Linked DNA regions of Homo sapiens. The protein of the gene in region 4 interacts with the protein of the main gene of each other region in a pairwise test. Each region holds a gene or a part of one and is shown on either strand. Other genes may lie near its edges.

Evidence for each region.
Region 1: the proteins of CSTF2 (region 4) and PRDM6 interact in binary tests that used the Homo sapiens proteins (3 or more experiments, as listed by UniProt).
Region 2: the proteins of CSTF2 (region 4) and ATP23 interact in binary tests that used the Homo sapiens proteins (3 or more experiments, as listed by UniProt).
Region 3: the proteins of CSTF2 (region 4) and RFX6 interact in binary tests that used the Homo sapiens proteins (3 or more experiments, as listed by UniProt).
Region 5: the proteins of CSTF2 (region 4) and TFG interact in binary tests that used the Homo sapiens proteins (3 or more experiments, as listed by UniProt).
Region 6: the proteins of CSTF2 (region 4) and USP54 interact in binary tests that used the Homo sapiens proteins (3 or more experiments, as listed by UniProt).
Region 7: the proteins of CSTF2 (region 4) and POU6F2 interact in binary tests that used the Homo sapiens proteins (3 or more experiments, as listed by UniProt).

The regions. Positions count from the first base shown.
Region 1 is NC_000005.10:123,095,741-123,099,240, forward strand, and holds part of PRDM6 (putative histone-lysine N-methyltransferase PRDM6), read left to right. Parts: intron 1-3,486; exon of another isoform or gene 3,487-3,500. UniProt on the Homo sapiens protein: Putative histone methyltransferase that acts as a transcriptional repressor of smooth muscle gene expression.
Region 2 is NC_000012.12:57,944,567-57,948,066, forward strand, and holds part of ATP23 (mitochondrial inner membrane protease ATP23 homolog), read left to right. Parts: intron 1-1,061; coding exon 1,062-1,107; intron 1,108-2,159; exon of another isoform or gene 2,160-2,194; coding exon of another isoform or gene 2,195-2,265; intron 2,266-2,428; coding exon 2,429-2,510; intron 2,511-3,500.
Region 3 is NC_000006.12:116,922,242-116,925,741, forward strand, and holds part of RFX6 (DNA-binding protein RFX6), read left to right. Parts: intron 1-865; coding exon 866-983; intron 984-2,427; coding exon 2,428-2,550; intron 2,551-3,211; coding exon 3,212-3,418; intron 3,419-3,500. UniProt on the Homo sapiens protein: Transcription factor required to direct islet cell differentiation during endocrine pancreas development. Specifically required for the differentiation of 4 of the 5 islet cell types and for the production of insulin.
Region 4 is NC_000023.11:100,826,891-100,830,390, forward strand, and holds part of CSTF2 (cleavage stimulation factor subunit 2), read left to right. Parts: intron 1-1,149; coding exon 1,150-1,212; intron 1,213-3,500. UniProt on the Homo sapiens protein: One of the multiple factors required for polyadenylation and 3'-end cleavage of mammalian pre-mRNAs. This subunit is directly involved in the binding to pre-mRNAs.
Region 5 is NC_000003.12:100,743,994-100,747,493, reverse strand, and holds part of TFG (protein TFG), read right to left. Parts: intron 2,662-3,500; coding exon 2,563-2,661; intron 1-2,562. UniProt on the Homo sapiens protein: Plays a role in the normal dynamic function of the endoplasmic reticulum (ER) and its associated microtubules. Required for secretory cargo traffic from the endoplasmic reticulum to the Golgi apparatus.
Region 6 is NC_000010.11:73,500,843-73,504,342, forward strand, and holds part of USP54 (ubiquitin carboxyl-terminal hydrolase 54), read right to left. Parts: intron 3,431-3,500; exon of another isoform or gene 3,342-3,430; intron 1-3,341.
Region 7 is NC_000007.14:39,466,505-39,469,101, forward strand, and holds the end of POU6F2 (POU domain, class 6, transcription factor 2), read left to right. Parts: 3' UTR 1-2,097; downstream 2,098-2,597. UniProt on the Homo sapiens protein: Probable transcription factor likely to be involved in early steps in the differentiation of amacrine and ganglion cells. Recognizes and binds to the DNA sequence 5'-ATGCAAAT-3'. Isoform 1 does not bind DNA.

The DNA.
Region 1 (3,500 bases), on a different chromosome or scaffold from region 4:
AGGCGTCGGGCAGGTACTGGGGAGTGAAGATGTGATGTAGCTCTCACTCCCCACGCGCCTACACATGACTGTTGGCCTCTCCACACACCAAAAGCCCGGAAGCGTTTTATATTTCACCTTTCCTAGAACGAGAAATGAAATTCCAGAAAAGAAAACCATGGCCTGCTTTGCCGCCTTTACCTTAAAATAGATATATTGTAAAGATCTATTGCACTTTAAAGACATTGAAACAACACAGAAGGATAGGAAATGAAGAGTGAAAGTCTGCTCTTAACTGCACTTGGCCTGGCCTTCTGATGCCAGGAGGCGAACAAGTCTGTAACCTAATGACAGCACCTTCCTTTACTCAGAGACGCTTAGACAGGAGCATTGACAGATTTACTCAAGATAGAAGAGTATTTATGAATAACAATTATGAACTTGTACAAAAACTCTTCCCCTGATTTTAAGAGAAAGTATGAACATTTACTTGCTTCCTTGTTAGGAACCTAAGTAGTTGTATTATGTATTGCTTGGCTTGGAATGCTCTGTGTGTGTATATATAATATAATGACATATATTATATACATTTATACATAGTTTGGTCCTCTCATATAGCCTGCTTCTCTTTCAAACCTTTTCATGTAGGTGTTTATACTCTGCTAGAATGTTTGTCTTCTTAAGCATATTTGTCAATCCCAAGAAATGTTACTTGTTTTTAATATCCTCAAGCTACCCTGAGACTCAGACATAAGTTAGAACCCAAATGTTTCAGCTGGGGGATTTTGTGTATTAAAAAATAACATTGGAATATAACATGTATCTTGATGGCAGTTGGTCAACTTTTCTGGCAGAATATTTTGATATAGCATGAAGTGGTTCACAAATTAAGAAGACCCCTGTTGGGTGGACTAATTAAAGTTGATTGACTTTGTCTAGCCTGCTGTGGACCTAACACACAGATAGTCTTCTAGATATTGGGAGAGCCTCAGTTTTTCACTTTTAATAGTAGCATAATGCTACTATTAAGTTTTTCAACTCTTTATGGAGACAAATGAAACAATAAGTTGAAGACGGCTTTAGAGGACTTCTTGGAGAAAGGCCTTAGCCACAGTTTTATTATCATGCATTACAAATATTAGAAGTGTGCTTTTTGTCTATGGAGGTAGTGGCTGGAGTTGGTACCTATGCTGATGTCGTTGATGGGATGACACGTGTGGAGAAGCATGTTGGAAGTTGACTGTCTCTGGCACAGGCTGCTAGGGAATGAAAACTAAACACTCTTCTGACCATTTGCATCATTGAGTCAAGCAGAAAAAAAAATCAGTTAAGTAACTCCCTGGAGTGACTTATTTCTATTTCCATGGGCATATTGCCTTTGCTTATTGTCATTTGCTTTTAGCTATTTTTGCAAAGGTGCTGAAAGGCTGTCTCTGAAGTCAGACAGTAACATTCAAAATTATAGACATTATCTATGTATTTTCCTATCCAATCTCTTACTTTAATGTCCGAAAACACAAGAGTGTGGGAAAGAGAGAAACCTCTATAACTCAATCATGCTACAGCAATTTTCATGGCCCCCAAAGTTACTTCAGTGAAATATTTCAATTCAATTGAGTCATGAGTTTGAATGTTAAATTTCCCCAGCTTTCATTAGTCTTTTAAAAATCTCTGGGTTTAGAGGCCTTGCAGTCAGGCAGCCTTGACTGTGAATCCTTTCTCTGCCACTTTCTAGCTTCTGGTTCTTGGTGGAGTAGTAGTGCTTGGGAATTGCTTTATCTGCAGAATGGGAATCATGATACTTAGATAATATGCTGGTTTTTGGTTCTAGACAGGTGTCTGACACATGGTATGCACTGTAATTGTGTTTATTGTCTTTCATGTAATTCCCAAAATGTCTTGAAGTTTTTATTTTCACAATCAATAAGCTTGAGAGGGTGTGTGAAGTGTGTGTGTTTCAGAGGAGTTGACATATGGATAAGTGTGAGAATACTCCCATCCAGGCCCTGGGGTCAAAAGCAGAGTCTGGGAGAATTTTAACAATAGTTTGTGTTGCTGGCAGAGGAAGGACAGAAGAGGGCCTTTGTGCAAGGGAGGCCCAGCGGCATGGACACTTCTCTGCTTTCCGAAACAAGTTGTTGCTTTTCACTTCAGAGGTCTGGGGACATTTCTGAGAAGCTTGCAGCCCTCATTCTTCCAGCTCTCTTGGGAGGAGTAGAGGAGTAGCTGCTGACTGAGGCAAAGGTTTGGCTGGCTAGAGCCCCCTCCAGTGAGACAGGAGGCTTACATAGTCAGCCCTCCTTTGCTGTGAAGCAAATGGCAAATCGAGGGCTCCCTTACCATGCTGGGTTGCGATTAGCTGTTCCTGACACAAACGTTTCATACAGACTCACAAGTTTCTTGGGCATTTCGGTCATTTCAGCGCAGATAGGGCACATCCAGGGTGATCCAACAGGCCTGGCTGCGGCCAAGGCTGGCGGCGGCAGGTACCCGGGTGCCCCGAGGGCCACCCGCCGCCCCGCTCTGGCGCATCCATCAGTGGCCAGCTTTCACCGTGTCTGCCAGGCGGGACTCGCCAGGTGTCAGGCTCAGTGCCATAAGCCTGACACTTGCGCGGGGTCGCCGTGGCTCCTCAGGGAAGCTGGGCCAAGGAGGCTGGGTCGCGCCGGCGGGCGCCGAGGCCACCTTCTCGGGGCAGGCCATCCGCGCTGAGGCGCAGACACGGCGGCTCCTCCAGGCCCATTAATAACCCGGAGGGCGCTGCGATCCGACAGCGCAGTCGCCACAGGCTCTATTTCCCGTGGCCGCCTGCCTCCTTCCAGCCCAGTTCGAGTGGAGGGATACTGGGCGCCCACTACCGCCCGGCCCGGAGGGTGGGGGTCCCTCTCGCGCAGGCTGCTTTGGAGAGTGTCGGAGAGAGACAGCTTTATCTACAGCTTCACCCATTGTATAGCACAACAGAATCGCATTTAGCCTGGAGAACAGCCGTCGGGGCAGGAGTTGGTGCCTTCTCTAACAATTAGGCTGATCGTTAAATTTGCTATTCCTTTCTTCCGGCGTCTAGGGAGAGCGTGCACACCAAACCCTCCAGAACAGCACCCCGGTCCCCCACCCCGCCCCACCTGTCCCCGCCCTGCTTCAGTGCCTGGAGGGAGAACTGACTGGTCGCTTGAGGGACCCCATTTCGGGCGCGCCCTTGGAGTCCTGGGGCTGCGGCTCCTGCTCTACCGGGCTGCAGGCTTGCTCTGCCCCGTCCCGTGGCGTTTGGGAGGCAGTCGAGGAAGCCTCCGAGTCTCTGGGTCGAAGGAAGTGCGAATGGCACCCGCGATAGACTGGCCGTCTCCCCCACCCCGCCCCGTCTGGTGATTTTAAATCGTCTCCTGTGTAATTGTAAAAAGAGGAAAGCTGAATACCCAGACGACCAGTATAGAATCTCTTCGAGACAGCAGATTGGGCAAGAGACGGGCTTTTTTTCGCAATACAAGGATAAACACATCCTGAAACTCCAGATAGAAACCTCA
Region 2 (3,500 bases), on a different chromosome or scaffold from region 4:
TCCTGGAATACAGTTACCTGTTCCTTGAGGCTCTTTCAATCTACTGTCTATTGTTTCACCAGCTTTAATTGTTGGAGAAAAATCCTTTCTCATACTGAGCTGAAATCTGCCACATGTAACTTCCATACTTTGGTCCTTGTTCTGCCCTTTGAAGAAATATTAACTGAATCTAGTCCCACATGGCACCCCTTCAATACTTGAAAGTAGTGTGGTCCTAGTTAAGTCTTCTGTCTCCTTTCCAACCCCCCAAATCCTTTCTTGCTTCTTACTGGAAATAGTCTGTAGTACCCTAGTCACCATCCCCTGTGGAAGAGCTTCAGTGGCAGGTCCAATTTAGAAGGTGGTAGTACTCAGCATGGGACATGGTATTGCCGGTATGATCTGATCAGGACAGAACAGTGTGGCTACTGGCTTCCTCAAATCTAGGTACTGTGCTGTTGTTCACTTCTAAGAATGTGGCCCTAGATTCCCTCAGTCTTTTGGTATATACCGTAATACAACGTGTTTGATCATTTAACTAAAAATGAACTTTAAAAGCATAGTTGATATTGTCTAAGATGCTTAGTAGTACCATCTTGGTATTTGTATTAGTGTTTTATTTCAGTACAAACTTGCTTTGATGTTGATTTAAGCTTGGCCTCTCATGTCAATTTTTACCAATTTTAAGATAACATTACTTTTTTTTTGAGACAGAGTCACTCTATCGTCCAGGCTGGAGTGCAGTGGTGTGATCTCAGCTCACTGTAATGTCTGTCTCCTGGGTTCAAGTGATTCTCATGCCTCAGCTTCCCAAGTAGCTGGGACTACAGGCGTGTGCCACCATGCCCAGCTAATTTTTGTATTTTTAGTAGAGACGGGGTTTGCCATGTTGGTCAGGCTGGGCTTGAACTCCTGGCCTCAAATGATCCACCCGCCTCAACCTCCTAAAGTGCTGGGATTACAGGCATGAGCCACTGCATCTGGCCTGTGAGTTACTTTTTGATAATATCTTACACTGCTATTTGGGTAGTTTAATTGGTGCTACTTTTCCAATTACTTAATTAAATCAATATCTTTTTTAGATCCATATGTCAAACTTCTGCTTGATGCTATGAAACACTCAGGTTGGTAAGTAACTCTTTTTGAAGTGCTGCTCTGAGGTCTGGCTGCTGAAAACAAAAACCAAGTTCTCTTCTTAAGAGAACTGCTTAAGATTTCTCTGAGGTCACAAAGTCTTTTCCATAGGGTAAATAGAGGTAATTGGCTGCATTGTCTCCGGGCTGGCCTTGTTCTCTTTGGACATTTTCTGCCCTAACTCATGTTTTTTTTTTTTTTTGGGGATAGAGTCTCGCTCTTGTTGTCCAGGTGGGAGTGCGTTGGTGCTGTCTCGGCTCAGTGCAACCTCCGTCTCCCAGGTTCAAGCAATTCTTCTCCCTCAGTCTCCCAAGTAGCTGGGTTTACAGGCGCACGCCACCATGCCCGGCTAATTTTTGTATTTTTAGTAGAAATGGGGTCTTAGCATGTTGACCAGACTGGTCTCGAACTCCTGTCCTCAAGTGATCCACCCACCTCGGCCTCCCAAAGTGCTGGGATTACAGGTGTGAGCCACTGCGCCAGCCCAGCTCATTTTCTAGTTCTTACCATTCACCTTGGGTGATTAATAAAGACAGTACTCAAAATTTTCTTGTAAGTAATTACCAAGCCTGGCCTTTCTGCTACACCAGCCTGAGCACTGTTTTTAATGGAAAAGAAATCTCAGCTTGTTATGTAGGAACCTTGCAGATGTTGTATAACTTTGAGGGGTTTAAAGGAAGTGACTTCTGACATCCACTTCTTAACATTCTGGCCCAAGGGCAGGAACTCCAGCATACTTGCAATATGGCCATAATCAGTTGAACAAATTTTTTTTTTTTTTTTTTTTTTTTGAGACGTAGTTTTGCTCTTTTTTTTTGCCCAGGCTGGAATGCAGTGGCACGATCTCGGCTCACCGCAACCTCCGCCTCCCGGGTTCAAGAGATTCTCCTGCCTCAGCCTCCTGAGTAGCTGGGATTATAGGCGCCCACCACCACCCGGCTAATTTTGTATTTTTAGTAGAGATGGGGGGTTCTCCATGTTGGTCAGGCTGGTCTTGAACTCCCGACCTCAGGTGATCCACCTGCCTCGGCCTCCCAAAGTGCTGGGATTACAGGCGTGAGCCACCGCGCCTGGGGGACAAATGTTTTATGGAATCATATCTATAGAATTTGAACTAGAATGGATTTTGTGTACAACCTCCTTATTTTACAGGTGAGATAACAGTCCTGAAGATGTTGTTTCTTTCCCAAGATTTCCTATGTGTTAGTAGTAGAGGGGATTTACTATATGGTGGAGGGTCTCCTGAGCCCTGGCCCAGGGCTGTTTGCCACATACACACTGTTTCTGGACATTGTCTCCTTTTCTTGCCTTTTAGTGCTGTTAACAAAGATAGACACTTTTCTTGCGAAGACTGTAATGGAAATGTCAGTGGAGGTTTTGATGCTTCAACATCTCAGGTAGGCATTATTGCCAAATTGTTTCCTTCCCTTTAATCCTCTCTCTTTATATTTTTTGAGCATCTTCCACATGCTCGGCATTCTGTTTGGTAGACTTTATGTAGGACTAAAAAAGTGAATTAGTTATCCTTACTCTAAGGAGTTTACTCTTAAAATCTCTTAAGGAGTTTACAGCCTTACAGGAAAGATAAGACATGAACACAGATAATTATAAAATGAGGCAAGCTAAACCATTTTAGGTGGGCTTGGTTACCACAATGGAACAGTGATGTGATCGATTGAAAGATGCCAACAGATTCGACTAGAGGATATAAAGCCTCCTTAGGGGCAGAGCAGGGACAGAGCAGGGGCAGCATGAGCAAAAGTGCATGCTACGAAACTGCATGGCATGTGTAGGGAATGGCATATTGTCTAGTTTATCTGGAGGGCAGGAACATGTGGGGAATGAGGGAAAATAGGATTGGAAGGAAATGTAAGCCCTATGGTGGGAGGTTTTGAATGCTAAATTAAAGGGTTTTTACCTTTACGTGGTGAGAATTGATACTGCCTGTGAAAATTTTTTATTAGGGGAGTTTTCTAATCTGTACAATTTGGGCAACGATTGTATCTATTTTATGGAATGATTATGAGAATTAAATGAGATATCTCTTATAGAGTTGCTTATCTTAGTGCCTGGCCCATAGTAAGCATTCAATAAATTTTATTATTAGTTTTAAGTCATCAGAGAGTTTCGACAGAGTCTTGGAGGTGGTAGATAATGTCATGTGATCAGGGTAAATGATGGTGTTATAAGTAACTGTTTCCCACTTGAATGTATAATTCATACTTAACTACACTTAACTGTTTCCTGCTGGATAATTTTGTATGTATTTAGGTTATTTATAGCATTTTTACAGTAATCATGTGAAGTGGCAATATAGAACAAGGATGAGAAGTCTAGATTTTGGAGTCAGACTTGAGTTCAAATCCTAGTTTCCTTGCTTATTATCT
Region 3 (3,500 bases), on a different chromosome or scaffold from region 4:
GGAAGGCTGTGTGTGTAAAGGCTTTGAAAAGCTTTTGATGCTCTACGAATAAGGCAGGCCAAATACTGAAATTAGGAATATGTCAAGATTTGAGAGCATTGGGCATGGATTCCATTATATTTCTCCTTTCTTGCCGAAAGACTACAAGATGCTCTGCCTTCCCTATCAGTCAATAACATTACAGCTGAGTAACATCAGTAGAGAAAGATAAACTTAGAAACTGGAATGATCTGGCCCGTTTCTAAAAAGCAAGATTTCATAAATGCTGATGGAAAACATGGTTCTAAGCATTTGCATTTCTGAATTCCAAAAGCTCAATATTTTGTGTTTTCTCTGTGGTTTCTTCACCTTCTTTGGTTAACCTAGTCACCCATTGTGAAACAAGCAATAAGAACAAATATATCCATCACTAGTTGGTGTTGGCCATTCCATATCAAGGAGACTAGTTATAGTTTGGAGACTTTTTTCCTTCTGTAAGGAAAATAGATTATCATTCAGTACCAAAGAAGTCAGAGTTAATCATTCACAAAAATATATAGCCCTTCCTTCACACCTCACCTTCTGTTCTTTTTAAAGCTCTGTCAAAGAAAAATTAAAAAATAAAAATATTTTGAAAATTATTTCATTTTGTTGTCTAATTCTATTAGGAAACAAAGCCATATTGAATAAAGACTTATTACCCTTAAAACATCAGCAAAGACAGGCTAACATTAAATTCCCTGGACAGATAGTTTTATTTGATGAAATAAATGCCATGCCATCTGTCCATTTGTTAGACAGTCTATTTACTTCTTGATCTAACACAGGATGCATGTAGTACTGAGAGGACGGATTTTATAGTTTCATTTTGTTCCTTTACTTTTAGACCAGCAAACAAAATGGAAGGTCATTAAAGAAGAGAGCTCAAGACTTTCTGTTAAAGTGGAGTTTTTTTGGTGCTCGAGTAATGCATAATCTCACCTTGAACAATGCATCCAGTTTTGGTAACATACGTGCATTATAAAACTGTTCTTACATGAATTATATAATTTGTTCCTCAGTCACAGTTCCTGTCAATTTTTAAACATGTTACATCATCACTTCTTAAACTGTATCTGAATATGGAGCTATGAGAAAATGGTATTTATGAGCCTGGGTTTTGGAGTCAGACCATAAGCAGGATTAAATCCTAACAATGATTGTCTCTGGCTATGGGCCAATCTGCTCATTGAAGAAGGGGAAGAATATTCTCTTCGAAGGGTTGTATAGGTACTTTGGTGAGATGATGTATATAAAAACAAATTGCCTAGCACTCAGGAAATGCTTAATGCATAGCAGCTATTATCATTACATTCCATCAGTGCTTGGATAAATTTTCTTTGTTAAACAAATGATAATTAAGACATTATTTTCCAAAGTTATTATTCATTGCAATACGGCAAATTTCTGCAGCTTTTCTGAGCACCCATATAACTGCACTCCAGGAATCAAAAAACAGCTTAGAAGACACACTGTCATGTTTCTGACCCATCTTTCCTGTTCTATATGACTTGGGAGACAAATAGGGTTAAGTTAGCTTTTTATAAAATTGAATGCCTTCTTTTTCCTTAGAATTCCTGAGACTCCTATTTTATAGTTATAATGTTAACTCATGAGTAGTAACTCTGCATTTGGTAGCTGCATTTCAGGAAATCTTCACATTATGAAAGAGATTACAATTAACTAAATTGTTTTTATTTAATGTTCTATAGAATTAAATAAAATCAGTGAATTTGTATTGAAGAATAAACAAAACACATTGTCTATTATTTGAAATAGACTTCCCATATTTAAAGTTTTATAAAATATACAGCATTGAAGCCTGGCCTTACTACGAAAAATACTTTTGTTGGAAAATCTATTGAATAGTTAAAAGAAGTTTTAGTTTTCCAGAACATATTTCACTTGAAAATTACTCTTTTAGTTTTTGCCAAATCTAAGAATATTTTGTTTCAGGCTAGAAAGATATCTCTTTACTTGACTTTTTTCAGACCATGTTGGCCATTGTCTAATTATTTAGTACAAAGTAAACAGAAATAGAGCAGAGTAGAGCTCATTCTCCCCAAGTTGAAGCTTATCACACTCCAATGTGTGCCCTCTTAAAGCATAAAGCATGTCTCACTTTCATCCGTATTTTCCTTTGATGTAATTAGTGGCCAAAGAGCTGGCAGGACAGTACACACAGTGAGCAGGGCAGGCAATACACAGAAAGATTAGAGATCCAAGTTAAGCATGTTGGTCTTAGCAGGTCATTTAAAGTCCAACAAGTATTTGTTTATTTCAGTTGCTCCTTGTAAAGTGTTGCGAGATGGTCACAAAGATAACTGACTTCTCTTTCCCTTTCCTTCTCTTTCTCTCCCCTTTTTACATTTCACACTGTCCTCTCCTCATTCTCCATCCATAAACAAGGTTCTTTTCATTTGATTCGAATGCTTCTCGATGAATACATTCTCCTGGCCATGGAGACCCAGTTTAATAATGACAAAGAGCAGGAGTTACAGAATTTATTGGACAAGTATATGAAGAATTCAGGTAACTTAAAATAACTGTTTTGTTTTGCATATTTCTTTGTTTTAATCTTAAGTTCAAGAATTTATAAGTTCAGATATTAAGTGGGTTTATCATAATCTCAGAGTTTTTCTCCAAACATGTCATTACTAATTCTCACCATACAGTCACACTATTGGAGCACTACTTTTCTTTCATTCATTGCTATGTAGTCAAAAGTACTTTACTGGAAACTCTGAAGTATACAAAATTGGTGATCTTAATTTCTGGGAATTAAGGTGAAGTTGGAGAAGTGACTATAATACAAAAAATAACTGTAATTCAAGACACATGTGGTATACTACATATGTAAGTGGTGTAAAAATAAGTTCTATAGGAGTTTAGAGAAGGAAGGAAACACATCTATTCAGGATAGGGCAACTTGCATTTTGAAGACTTCACTCCAAACTGGATTATTTAGTGCTCCTTATCTACATCCACATCCGCAAATATGCAGCTAAAAAAAACCTAGCATCACTGTCAAGAGCAAAGGTCTGCCAACCTCACTTCCCATGGGAAACATTGCTTAGTAGTTTCCAGATTAAATACTCAACAATGAAACATTTTCATTTTCTTTTTACTTGGGTTTATCTACGAGGAATGTGAGAAAAAATCTCAAATTTCCCATTTTAAAAACTCTTTCCAGATGCGAGTAAAGCTGCTTTCACTGCTTCTCCGAGTTCATGCTTTCTGGCCAACCGTAATAAAGGGAGCATGGTTTCCAGCGACGCTGTGAAGAATGAAAGCCACGTGGAGACAACCTATCTCCCTCTGCCATCCAGTCAACCTGGAGGCCTAGGCCCTGCTCTGCACCAGTTCCCTGCTGGGAACACAGACAACATGCCGCTCACAGGTACGCTAAAGAGAACTGCTTAGGCTCCAGCACATCTCAGAGAAGCCTGTTGCTTCATTTTTCTTAAAACTCATAACTTCCA
Region 4 (3,500 bases):
TGGAGGAAATAGTAGATTTCTTACGTTAAATCCTGTATGTCTAATTATAAGAACAGGGAAAGGGACAGTAAAGTGAAAGAGCATAGTAAAACTTCCAAGTTAACAAGGGGGAAAATGGAATGAGTGGAAACAAAATCAAGCCAGCAAAAATAGAGAAGAGGAAAAAAGTAAGAGACAGTGTAAAATAAGTAATAATAAATGTAGAGTAAGATGGAAGGAATAAAAACTAATGTAGTTGTTACTCTGCTAAATATGAATGAACTGTCAGATTAGGTTCAAAAGCTCATGAAGAAAACAGACAAAAAAATACAAGGTCACATTTGTTATAGCATATTAAACTGACATAAAATTGTATTTTAACAAACATAATCAGAACAAACAACAAAAGGGAAAAAGAGAAATTTAAAAGCTATGTACATTTATTGAAAATGTATAGATCGGCAATTAATAAGAGTATTGCTCATATACTTGTAACTGTTCCTTGTTCAACAATTGTAACTAAGAAGATTGAGTGAAATAATGATTCCCCATATGAAACATCTGTATGAACACATGATGTATTACCAATATTTAAAGTTTTTTTATGTAACAAACTTGGTTTTTGTTAATTTATCTAATCTAGGGTAGGTTGAGTACAACACTACTCATGGAGAATGATTTAATTCTAAATTGTTCTGTTCTGTAGAGAATCCAGTCTGCAGAGCTAAGTTGATGAGGAATGGAAGAAGAGATTTTTTGAAGAAATTTCTGCAAACTCAGGAATTTTTTGTATCTACTTTAGGATTGTTATGTATCTACTTTATCCTAATAGAGTTATACTTGTATTTAAATTATCTTTCATGACAGGAGGTCCATGGGTAAGTGACATTGTTTTCCTGTATTATAGAAGAGCTTCCTGCCAAGAGTTTGGTAACCAATGAAATGAATTATTCTTATTGAACTCACTATTCTGTCACTGAAACATAAAGTACAAATTGTAAATATACTAACAAACCCCATCTTCTCTCTCATTGCATTGTTGAATATCTTCCTTTGTAGGTTTCTGCTTGTGGAGCAGAATGAGGAAATTTGTAAACTCAGCCACTGTTCTAATTTTTCTTTTCCGCTGTTCTAATTGGTGTTTTTTCTTGTCTGCCCTTTATCTTCTAGGAGGAATGCAGGCTCAGGTTGGAATGCCAGGAAGTGGACCAGTGTCCATGGAACGGGGGCAAGGTAAATAAATATTAATGTCTGACTAATGTTAATTGGTCATGGAAGTGTTCCACATCCACAGTATCTAATATGGCAGCCACTAACCACCCATGGCTATTTCAATATTAAGTTAATTAAAATTAAGTAAAATTTAAAACTCAGTTCCTCAGTCACAATAGCCACATTCCAAGTGCTCAGTGGCCACAGGTGACTAGTGGATACCATACAGGACATTACAGATATAGAACATTTCTATCATCGTAAAAAGATCTATTGGACAGTGCTGGTCTAGACTTTCCACCTGGTGATTCAGAGTCCAGCTCTACAAGAATTGATAATGAAGCAAGTGGATCGTTTGTTTCCTGATTCCTAGTCTAATAATTCCACTGACATGTTCTCTCTCCCTGTATGGATATCTGTTGACTGAGTAAGGAATTTTAATAATGAGCATGTAAATATGTGGCTGGGTATGTAGAAGACTAGATTTAAACCCCAGAGAAAACTGGGAGGGAATCATAGGTCTGTAACGCCTACTTAATGAACATATGTTGTACCGTGGCTGTACTGCTATATACAACAGTAGCTGCTGCTCCAAAATCTCCATGTTGTTTCTTCATGTTACTGGAGTTTGAAGGACAAGAAAGTGCAGTGGTTCAGTTGGAAACAATGTTAGGAGGAGAGATCGTAAGAAAAGAGAAGGAACTGAGTGCATACTATATGCCAGGCACTTTAATTTTCATAAATAATCTTGTGAGTTAGGTGGCAGCACCTCAGTTTTACAGGCAAAGAGTTGGAAGCTCAGAATAAGTTACTTTCTCAAGGGGACAAGGTAAGTAAATATTAATGTATGAGTAATGTGGACTGGATTTGGTGCTCTTATTTTCTCTTCCAACTAGTAAGTGGCAGAGCTAAGATTCAGAAGTCTTTGACTCCAGAATCTGTCCTCTTTCTGTCACTCCACACTGCCTCTGTTAACTTCCAAGCATATTCTTCAGTGTCTTCTACTCTTATTCCTTGGGAATAAAATGATGGGAAAGACTGCTTTGGACAAGCATAGAGAAGCTTAAGGTTTTTTCTTTTGTAGCATATGGTTTATAAGTGGAACCCATTTAAAAAGCAAAATATTGGCCAGGCGCAGTGGCTCATGCCTGTAATCCCAGCACTTTGGGAGGCTGAGGTGGGTGGATTGCTTGAGCTCAGAGGTTTGAAACTAGCCTAGACAACATGGCAAAACCCCGTCTCTATAAAAAATACAAAAACTAGTTGGGCAATGGTGGTGTGCACTTGTGGTCCCAGCTACTTGGGAGGCCGAAGTGGAAGGATCACTTGAGCCCAACAGGTTGAGACTGCAGTGAGCCATAATCGGGCACCACTGCACTCCAGCCTGGGCAACAGAGCAAGACCCTGTCTCAAAGAATATATATATATACACACACACACACATATATATACACACATACATACATAAACATTAATATACAAGCCTGTGGTTTTTACACTGGGGTTGGTTGCTGAAGTGACAGAATTAACTTTTTCTTGTTAGAAGTCTGACAGCAGGACAAACTCCCTGGCCAAATATCTCATATTTTCTCTAAGCATCCAATGCTTTTGTGCTATTGTACATCCCTCTATCCCCACCGCACCACTGTCAATAGATCATATATGTTCCCCAGAGTATTTCTGCAGTAATGAGAAGGTATTAGGGTTTCAGTCATACTTCTGCCTGTCATGGGGCCAGCCCTCAATCCATCAGGTTTTAGCTGTTTAACGCATACTTGCACAAGACATCTTCCTATTATAGTTATCTTCACCTTTTTGTCAGAAATTGGCAAAGGGAAGTGACTCATGTTTTGAGGGTATTTCCAGGATGTCTTCATGCAGAGACTAAGTGAGATGAGCTTTCTTTTATAGTTTCCTTCAGTACCCAGCAGAGGAAGCAAGAGTCTTTTCGTGTGTGCCTAGTTTGTCTTACTTTTCCTGAAATCCATGCTGCTTTTAATGCTGAAAGGAGATGGAGATGTTTGAGAAGATACTTCTTGCTTCCCTGCCATGTTTGTTTAGTGTCGGTTCCCATGTCATCTCATTAGTCTTTGTTTGCTGTTGTCATGATGTTTATTATCAAAGACTTGCTGTGGCAGAGTATTTCTTGTGGAGTGATATTCTCTTTCATCATGTAAAGTTCATTCACTGCATTTCCCCATCTGATACATTTTTGACAGCAGAAATTTTTGTGCTTTAAAATGTGACAAAAATAGAATTGCCGTACTTCAGTTATGGCCGTTTCAGAATGAATCTTGCCTTCCAGATTC
Region 5 (3,500 bases), on a different chromosome or scaffold from region 4:
TGCTTCACTGAAAACTTTTATCTCTACCATGAAACACACCTGCAGCTACTTGCAATGAAACCTCTCCATTGACTGGAATCCTGTCAGCATTAAATACCAGATACATAAGAAAATTATTAAAATATGTACAACCCTGCATTAAAAAAAAAAAGGATTGAATGAATTTGAGTATATTCTGAACTCACCTTGAACCTGGGTTCAAAATTTACTCATGAAAGAAACCTTTATGACATAGTCCATGAACAAAACTGGAAAAGGTCAGAGGGAAACTGGCAAACCAACAGTGTCAAAGATGGTCCAATGTTACCACCACCACCTCTTAGTCTCCAAGCAGAGTATTTAGTTGACTATTTCCATATCTCTCAATCAAATTCAAGTTAATAGACTAGTAGGATCAGAAATACAAAGATAATAATTTGAAAAGACTAAATTTTACTCAGAGTGAAGACCCTGACTAAATTTATTAAGAGCAAGCTTAGTTCTTAATAAGTAAATCAAGTATCTTTAACGCATTAACTCATGGTAGCATCTAAATACTGACCTGAAACCAACTCATAAAAAATTCTGAATGTCATACAAGTTCTCCTATCCTCTACATAAAACTTAAATTTTCACTATAAGGTTTTGAAGAAATAGATGGATTCAGCTTTATACTGAAAATGCCTATTCATTTTAACACTGCGAGAAAAAAGAAAAGTGCCTTTTCATCCTGGCACCTGAAATCTGAATTGTTTTTTTTTAACTGGGCCTGGAAGTAATCTGATCCTTAATTATTGCTTAGGGGAGGGAATAACCCTACAGGCTGAAGATTTCATTAGCAGCCCACCAGTCTCTTGAACATAATGTGGCAATGCTTCTATCATGTGTGTGTGTGTATATATATAGTCTCCCTTCCGTCCCTCCAAAATAATAAATAACTTTAGGTGAAGGACATCAGAAATAGCAAAAAAATGGAAATATGGAAATTATGTGAGTTTTTTTTTTAATACATAGGACATCTAGCCTTTTATGGAGTAAGTCTGCCAACTCCAGTCTAGGTTGTAGAATGCAGAATGATACAGGGAAATACTGAACTGATCCAGCTCCCTCCACTGAATGGCTGTATGTGCTTTGACAAGTCACAATCTCTTTCAAAACTAGTTGCCTCATTTATAAAATGCAAACGCCTGAGTCCCACACCCAATCAAATGAAATTCAAAATCTCTGGGAATGGGGCCCCACACATAGCCTCCCCCAGGTGATTCTAAAGCATAGTGAGGACCGAAATCCCGAGATTAAATGATGACTAAATCTCTTCAGCTCTGCTATTCTTTCTATAAATAACATAGTTTGTAACACTGATTTTTTTAAAAGAACTGCATCCTAAAAATAACCTTCCTCCTGATATAATCCAAACTTAAGTTCTATGTATTTTATACAATTAAAAACAAGTAGCTACAAGTTAAGTCACTCTACAGCAAATACAATCTAAATAAAATTGTGTCAAAATATTTCAAATTTTAATTAATGACAGAATGTTATGGTCTAGGTCAGGAGTCAGCAAACTTTTCTGTAAAGAGCCAGATAGTAAATAGTTTAGGCTTTGTGGGCCACATGGTCTTCTGTTGCAACTACTCAACTCTGCCATTCTAGTGCCCAAGTAGCAGTAGAGAATATAAAAGTAGAAGTGTGTTCCAATAAAACTTTATTCAAAAAAACAGGCAATAGTCCAGATTTGGCCTGTGGGCTATACTTTACTGACTCCTGCTCTAGCTGATACCACAAAACTCTATAAAATAGAATTTAGACTAGATTCAACCTGCATAAATTATTTCTAATTACAGTTGAAATTCTGATACTTCAATCTTTGGCTGTAAAACAAGAGTTGGACACAAACTCTCTGACATAACTGTAAAAAATACTGGAATTATAGCCAAAGTTACATTAATAATATTTATCATACTTAAATACATATAATCTTCAGTGGACAGATGGTAAAATAGAAACAAAATACTCAGGATGCTTATTTAAAACAACTAAACAATGTTCTTAGTTGCCTGAATTACATTTTATACGATTTTATTTTTATGGCCTATTTCTGGTATTCCTACATACTTGCAAGAGATTTTAAAATCTAAGTAGCTTAATTGAGCTCTTATTTAAATAACATCACCTTTCCATGTATAGTAAACTGTTCATATTTCTACAGGTACTAAGAGTACACTGGAATTACGTGTTACATATAAATGGAGAGGTGGAGGGAAGGGGGAAAACTTGCACTAAGTCGCCTAAGAGATAAACTGATAATGTTAGTAAGACAGCTTTGTATTAAAAACTTTTTATACTACAAGTTACTGCAGAATCATCTACTGTAAGTTTTATCTCCCCACCAGAAAACTGAAATGTTGATTTACAATATTAATGTAAAATATTTAAAAATAAATAAAACAAATGTTGTTTCCCCTAATAAAAACTTAATACCTATTATATCAATGTACTACAAATCAAGGAATTAAGAACTTAAAGTTTAATGAGTATAGAAACAAAAAACCATGAGCCAACTCCCTTTCAACACCTGCTCACCTGAATACTGAATACCATACTGTTGAGGCTGCTGAGGTGGAGCCTGCGGCTGCTGTGCACCATAGCCGGCCTGTTGCTGGTACTGTTGGTACATCTGACCTGAAAACACACACACACACACACAAGGAAAAAAGGCATGTTTAATGTGGCAAAGAGAAATATTTTTAAGATACATATACATTCCCTCTCCATCCAAACAGAGTAACAATATACAAGAAAGTATTTGTTCAACTTTAAATGTCTATGAAGAAGAGAATGAACCATTTTAGAAGTGTGATTCCTCTGCTGTGGATTAACTGCAGAGAACTAACTGGCAATAAACATTAAGTGCAACACCAGTGGCTACCATTTCATAAAGTCTAGAAAAACAAATGTTTTCCAACCCAGCTGCCAACAGATAAGTAACGCTAATGTTCATTAAAAGCCAAGTGAGTTGAAAATCAGTAAATAAAAATGAGAAAAGGGACAAATACCATTTATATCATCTAAGTCCTTCCTAAAGCACTGTATTTGCCCTCTAAAGGTATGGGCCTCTATTACCATATGAACAAACTCTTTGGTAGCAAGGAACTATATGACATCTTTTGTTCCAGAGCTGAAAGACACTTTTGGAATTTGTCAAGTTTGATTTTCTATGAATATCCAACATCTTTTGCCAATAACGTGGACTCTAATAAAGTCTAAATGGTTCTTCATTGCACTATTTAATAATGGCAGACCTTTTTAACAACGGTGATGTGTTCTTGAACATGGGAGTCCTATTTGTCCTATTTGGGGTCAACAACCACTGTTCCTATGAAGAAACCCTTTAGACACTTATTACCTATGATTTTTCTTTTTACTTTTTATTTTTCTGTCCTCACAATCTGTTCCCATACCTGTGATTTTCAAGCAAAGATTTATTGGTTTATGTCTTTATTATCTCTACTTCTCAATTA
Region 6 (3,500 bases), on a different chromosome or scaffold from region 4:
TAATGAGACAAGACAAAAAAACATAGAGATGAGGATTAACACAAAGCAGGATGTAGTTGGGTAAACACAGTGAGGCAAGCAAAGGGAAATGGAGGGAACCAGAGCACAAACATGCCTACATGCCTTGTTCTGGAACAGGACCCAATTTACTCAGTTGCTCTCCCTGCTAGCCCTCTAAGAAACTGCAAACTTCAGATCCTTATCCCTTAACCAGTCTTCCTCATATCCCTCACCTTCCCAACCCTATCATTCAGGTCTTTAGCAAACTCCTTAATGCTAACAGTAGAATTAGAGAGATTGAGATAGAAATTTAAAAATAAAAACGAAATATGAGAAATTCAGAAAGCCTGAGAGAATGAGAAAAAAAAATCCTTCACTTATTCTAAGTACTGGGAATGAAACTATATATGTTTAAATGTAGAATCAAGAACTCTACCCCATCTTCTCTCCTGTCACTGCTACACATTCCACAGCTTCCTCTTTTGCCTGTCAAGTTTGTATTTACTGATGCTAATGTCCTGCTCTACTCCCTATTAGTTATCTACTTTTATGATAAATACCCAGAAATATTCCCCTTTAACATCTGAAACACTAACATATCCAAAATTGAACCAAAATCCTTCCAAACTCCTCCTCCTGGCACCTCATTTTCCTAAATCACCCATATTCAAACATTGGCAATGACCTTGATTTCCCACTTCCCATCCACAATTCCATTACTTGCCAAGGACTATCATTTCTACCTATGGGTTTTATATTTAAATTCACCTGGACTACTGCAACAGCCTTCAATCTGCTTTTCCTATCTCCCATCCACTCCTCCTTACTGTGGCCTACAAGGTCCTGTGTGATATGGCCCTGCTGCTCCTCACTTTATTTCCTATCATTCCTGGAGCTTTTACACTCTAACTTTAATATTCCTCAAACACACCAAGCTCATTGCTACCTCAGAGTCTTTATACTTCCTGTTTCTGTTACCAAGAATATTCTTCTGATGGCTCATACTTTCATATCACTGAGATCTCTAATCAAAAGTTACTTCCTTAGAGCTGATTTCCCTCACTACCCTACTATCAGGAATAGCCCTCAAAAAAACCACTATTACCTCTTTACTCTTTATTCTCTTGCCTTATTATTCTTTATCATACTTATCATTGTCTGGCATTATGTCATTTATTTGTTTATTGTCTTCTCCCCTATTTCTTTTTACTTCTGTATCCGCAGCACCTTGAACAGTGCCTAGAACAATGTGGGCACTTAGTAATAATACATTAAATAAAATAATCTATATGCCAGTATGTCTAATTTCCTTTACGAGACTGCAAGCTACTCAAGGGCAGAATTTGTGTTGTTTCATCAGTGTATGCTCACAGCACCTACTACAAAATGGCACAAAGTAAGCATTTATCATACTGCCTAAGGACCAGGTGCCAGTCCTCTCAGCATGTGACACAGCTAATTATTCCTTTCTTCTTTTTTTTTTTGAGACGGAGTCTCGCTCTGTCACCCAGGCTGGAGTGCAGTGGCGCAATCTCGGCTCACTCACTGCAAGCTCTGCCTCCTGGGTTCACACCATTCTCCTGCCTCAGCTTCCCAAGTAGCTGGGACTACAGGCACCCGCCACCGCGCCCAGCTAATTTTTTTGTATTTTTAGTAGAGACGGCATTTCACTGTGTTAGCCAGGATGGTCTCAATCTCCTGACCTTATGATCTGCCCGCCTCAGCCTCCCAAAGTGCTGGGATTACAGGCGTGAGCCACCGCGCCCGGCTATTCCTTTCTTCTTGAAACACTCTCCCCTTGGTGACTATGGTACCACACATCCTTGGTTTCCCTTCAGTCTCTCTAATCTTTTTTTCTCAGTCTCCTTTTAGGGTTCTTCAGAAGAACCACCTTAAATCTGATGCTCTTTAGGGATATGTCCTGGCTCCTCTTCTCTTTCTGCAAGTCTTTTCCTCTTTTTCAATGGCTATGATTCCCAGATTTCAATTTGCAGCTTATATATCTCATTCCAAAAGCCTGCCAGATACCTCCACTCAAGCTTAATATATGTAAAACTGAATGCATATCTTCCCTCAAATATATCATTATCTACCCATAAAACTTGAGTATCATCCTTTATCCCCACTCCCAACATCCAGGCAGGCACCAACTCCCACTGATGTTTACTTCCTAACTGGGTCTCAAATACATCGACTTATCTCTATCCTTCCAAACTACTTACTGTGACATACAGGGCTGTCTGTGGTCCATAATATTCTTTGTATCCTCTCTTGTCAACACTCTCCATCATCTCCCCTTGCCAGACTTTCTAATCCTGCCATACTAAATAAGCTTCTTTTAATTCAGTTAATATTTGCTCAGGTCCCTTTTACTTGCTATATTCTTTTTGCTTCCTCCAGGAAGCCTTCCATGATACCTCAAGCCTGATTTAAATATCCCTTCTATTATGTTCCCATAGGATCAAATCCTTAACACATTATAACTGTTTGTTTATTTATCCGTCCCTCACTGTAGACTGTAAGCTCCATAAAAGCAGGGACTATATCTAACTCACCATTGTAGCTCCAGCACCTAGCACAATACCTAGAACACACTCAATAAGCACTTATTTATTTGTTTATTTTTGTGCTAGGAATCTTGTACAGAATCAATAAGCATTTATTTAAAAGAATGAATCAATGAATGATACAGAAGTCAGAAGAAAGGAAGCCAACTCTCCTAGGAAAAGAACAATTTGCCATTAAATGAATTGAAAGTACATGAGAACAAATGCTAGGCAGGAGAGTCCACCTTTTCCAAAAAAGAATGGCAGCCTGATCAGAATTGCTTAGGAATTTATGAACGATAAATTGAATGAAACTTACTATAAATTCGGCTGGGTTTTTTTGTTTGTTTTGTTTTGTTTTTGAGACAGAGTCTTGCTCTGTTACCCAGGCTGGAGTGCAGTGGCTCAATCTCAGCTCACTGCAACCTCTGCCACCCGGATTCAAGCGATTCTCCTGCCTCAGCCTCCCGAGTAGCTAGGACTACAAGCACCCCCCACCATGCCTGGCTAATTTTTATATTTTTGCCATGTTGGCCAGGCTGGTCTCGAACTCCTGACCTCAGGTGATCCACCATCCTTGGCCTCCCAAAGTGCTGGGATTACAGGCATGAGCCACCACGCCTGGCCTCGGCTGATTTTTAAAAATTGGAAAAATGAGTACCTCTTAGGAGGGAAACTGAATCTGAAGGGCTGGTAGAAGACAGACTTGGTTTTCACCATATATGCTTTTATACCTTTTTATTTTTGTACCATGTATTTAAAATCTGTTTTTACATTTTTCCTGAACTGACCTAGTGGACAACCTTCAATGCACTGGTACTTTGTACCCTGACCTCTACTGTGATGAACACTCAACTTGGGCAAGGAAGTGAAATTCTCCAAAGGTATGATTACCTACAAACCTAGCCACTGATATTATTTAAGTTTGTTGATCTCTAATGGCTTGGGCTTTCC
Region 7 (2,597 bases), on a different chromosome or scaffold from region 4:
CTAATGTATTATCTAGAAGTAAGTTGTGAAAGAAAAAAGAGAAACCCAATCTCAAGTTGCCCAACTGATTAGAAATGCCATCTCCTTCCCCTAATACACTCCCTCTCCCTGGGGAGTTTGAGTTTCTTCTGTTGGCTCCTTTGCTGTTTGTGTAAATGCTACAGTATAATTGTCCCCTCCAATGATTCATGCAGCAATCAAGAGACTACCAGCAAGGAAACTCTAAAAGGAATCCTGGAAGTGGAACAAGTCACTCGTAAAGGTGTTTCCATTTTACCAGTCAATGCTAACTGGACCACAGCTAACTTGATCTTCAATGCCAACATCACAGAGCCCCTTTCGCCACCTCAAAAACTGCACAAACATGGACAACCCAGAAACCCAAAACTTTATTGATTAAAACAGATTTTGGATTCTCCTAGGACCTGCTCCAAATTCCATCAAGAAAAGCTCCCTGCGAAGAGAAGTTAACAAGATAACATATGATGGATGCTAAATATTTAAATATATGCCGGCAGCGGTTACATAAGGCCTGCTCAGTTCTGAGATCTATAATTGGGAGGGTCTAACTAGGACAGGGAAAATATAAAATAAAAGTAATCTTCCAGAGTGGAACAAAAAAGAAATATATTCATCCGACAGTCGTAACACCATTCATGTGCAGTGATTTTTTTATAGTTTTATAATTTTGTATTGTTTTATAAATTATTTATAAGGTGTTGTAATGCTTCTTATATTAATTTTTTACAGATAAATTTTTTGCTACAAGGCATAAAAAGGTGCCTGAACCGATTCTTAGGAATATAAATTATACTGTGTAACTCATAAGTCTTTGGGACCACACCTAATGCTTAATTTTATGATGACATTTCTCATGTCTACTTGTAAACAACTTCATATGCCAATGGCGTTTAAGTGTCTTTTATGTTTCCATGAACTGAAGGTTAAGGTTGCCACCCACAAAAAATAAAAGCCACTTTGGGCATATGTGATTGTATTTCAAGCTTCAGTATTTTTCTCACATAATTTTTAATTATTGTTATCTGCATTTTCATTACTTCATGAAAAAATGACAGTGGATATTACATTTTACACTTGTTTATAGATTTTCTTTCTTTTTCAACCAAGAAAATATTTTGAACAATTGAAACTTTTAATTGCATTTGCAAGGTTTTGGCTTCTTTATGTTGTCATCACACAGATGCACACACACATACACATACAACACAAAAGAGAGAACAAAAAAGCAAAAGGAGCTAGGAAAAAAACAAAACAAAACAAGTAGAGGTGTATCAAAGAACTCAAGCTATAACCAAAAAGAAATCGTAAAATGCCTTTGCTCGTTTCTCTACGCTGGACCAAAGCTCAATATTTGTAGGTATATGCACATTGTATAGATATGGCTAAATGTTGCTGACAATCTCGCAATACTAAACTGTTCCTATTTTAAGAAAAAAAAAAGAAATACAAACTGTTCATCAATGTTTTACCTCAGCACTCTACTTGTACCCAGTTAATGACCAAGCTTAAAAAAAAATTGAGATAAAGGAAATTGATTTTCATTTCAATGTTTGACTGTAAAATCTGTTTGGATAACATTTTGTAATGAGCTTTTTGTCATGTGATTTGCTTGTCTTCAACTTGAAATTATGTGAGGCACATTTGTTTATTTGTTGTTAAGAAAGTGATTTTTTTTTTTTTTTGTCCTATGTGCTGTGATCTAGACTGGTCACCGGGGTCACTTATGAGGCACCACAAAGAGATCTGCTTCTCCGTGCCCGGAGCAGGCAGCAGGAGGGAGGGCAGGAAACAGGACTGGGTTGCTTTGGAAAAATCATCATGACAAGAAGTTGACATGATAGACTTGTGACCAAGAAGCCAAACTGAATATTTAAAAGCTCCTTACTTGCTCTGACATTGAAACCAAAGCTGATTTTATCTGCACAGGTTGCTTAATATTTAAAAAAAAAAAAAACTGTACTTAATCTAGAGCAATATCTGTATGGTCAGTAAAGCTGCACTTTGTGTATTTCTTAACAGCTTCAGATCTGTCACTTTTAATTTGTACCATAAAAAATAAATAATTGTTTGACATGAGCTTCTAGGCTAAGTGTGTCTCACACTCAGATATGTCATTTAAGTTGTCAGCATTTTAAAAACTGTACATTAAAACCCCAAATGTTAAGGAAAGGAAGGGGTTCAAGACAGATTGGTTAATATCATGATTATTTTAACTTTTCAAATGACATATTGTATTCATTGGGACTCTTTTGGTTGCAAGTTATAGGAATTCAACTGAAACTTGCCTACACATAAAGGTACTGTGTTGTTTGACTTAATGGGAAGTTCCGTTGTGGACCTGAAGCACAGCTGGATTCAGTGGTTTCAAAGATGTCATCAGCCTGTCCTGCTTGGCTTCCTTCTCAGATGGATTCTCTAACCATTGACTCTAAGGCTTTGAATCATTGCGCCCTTCTCTAAACTAAGCACTGGTGCTGCGGGGTGATGCACATAAATTCATGGTCACAGGCTCATTCCTGTCTGTGGGGGGAGGGTGGGGCCTCACTCTGACGACCCTGTGGGACCACAAGGATTGA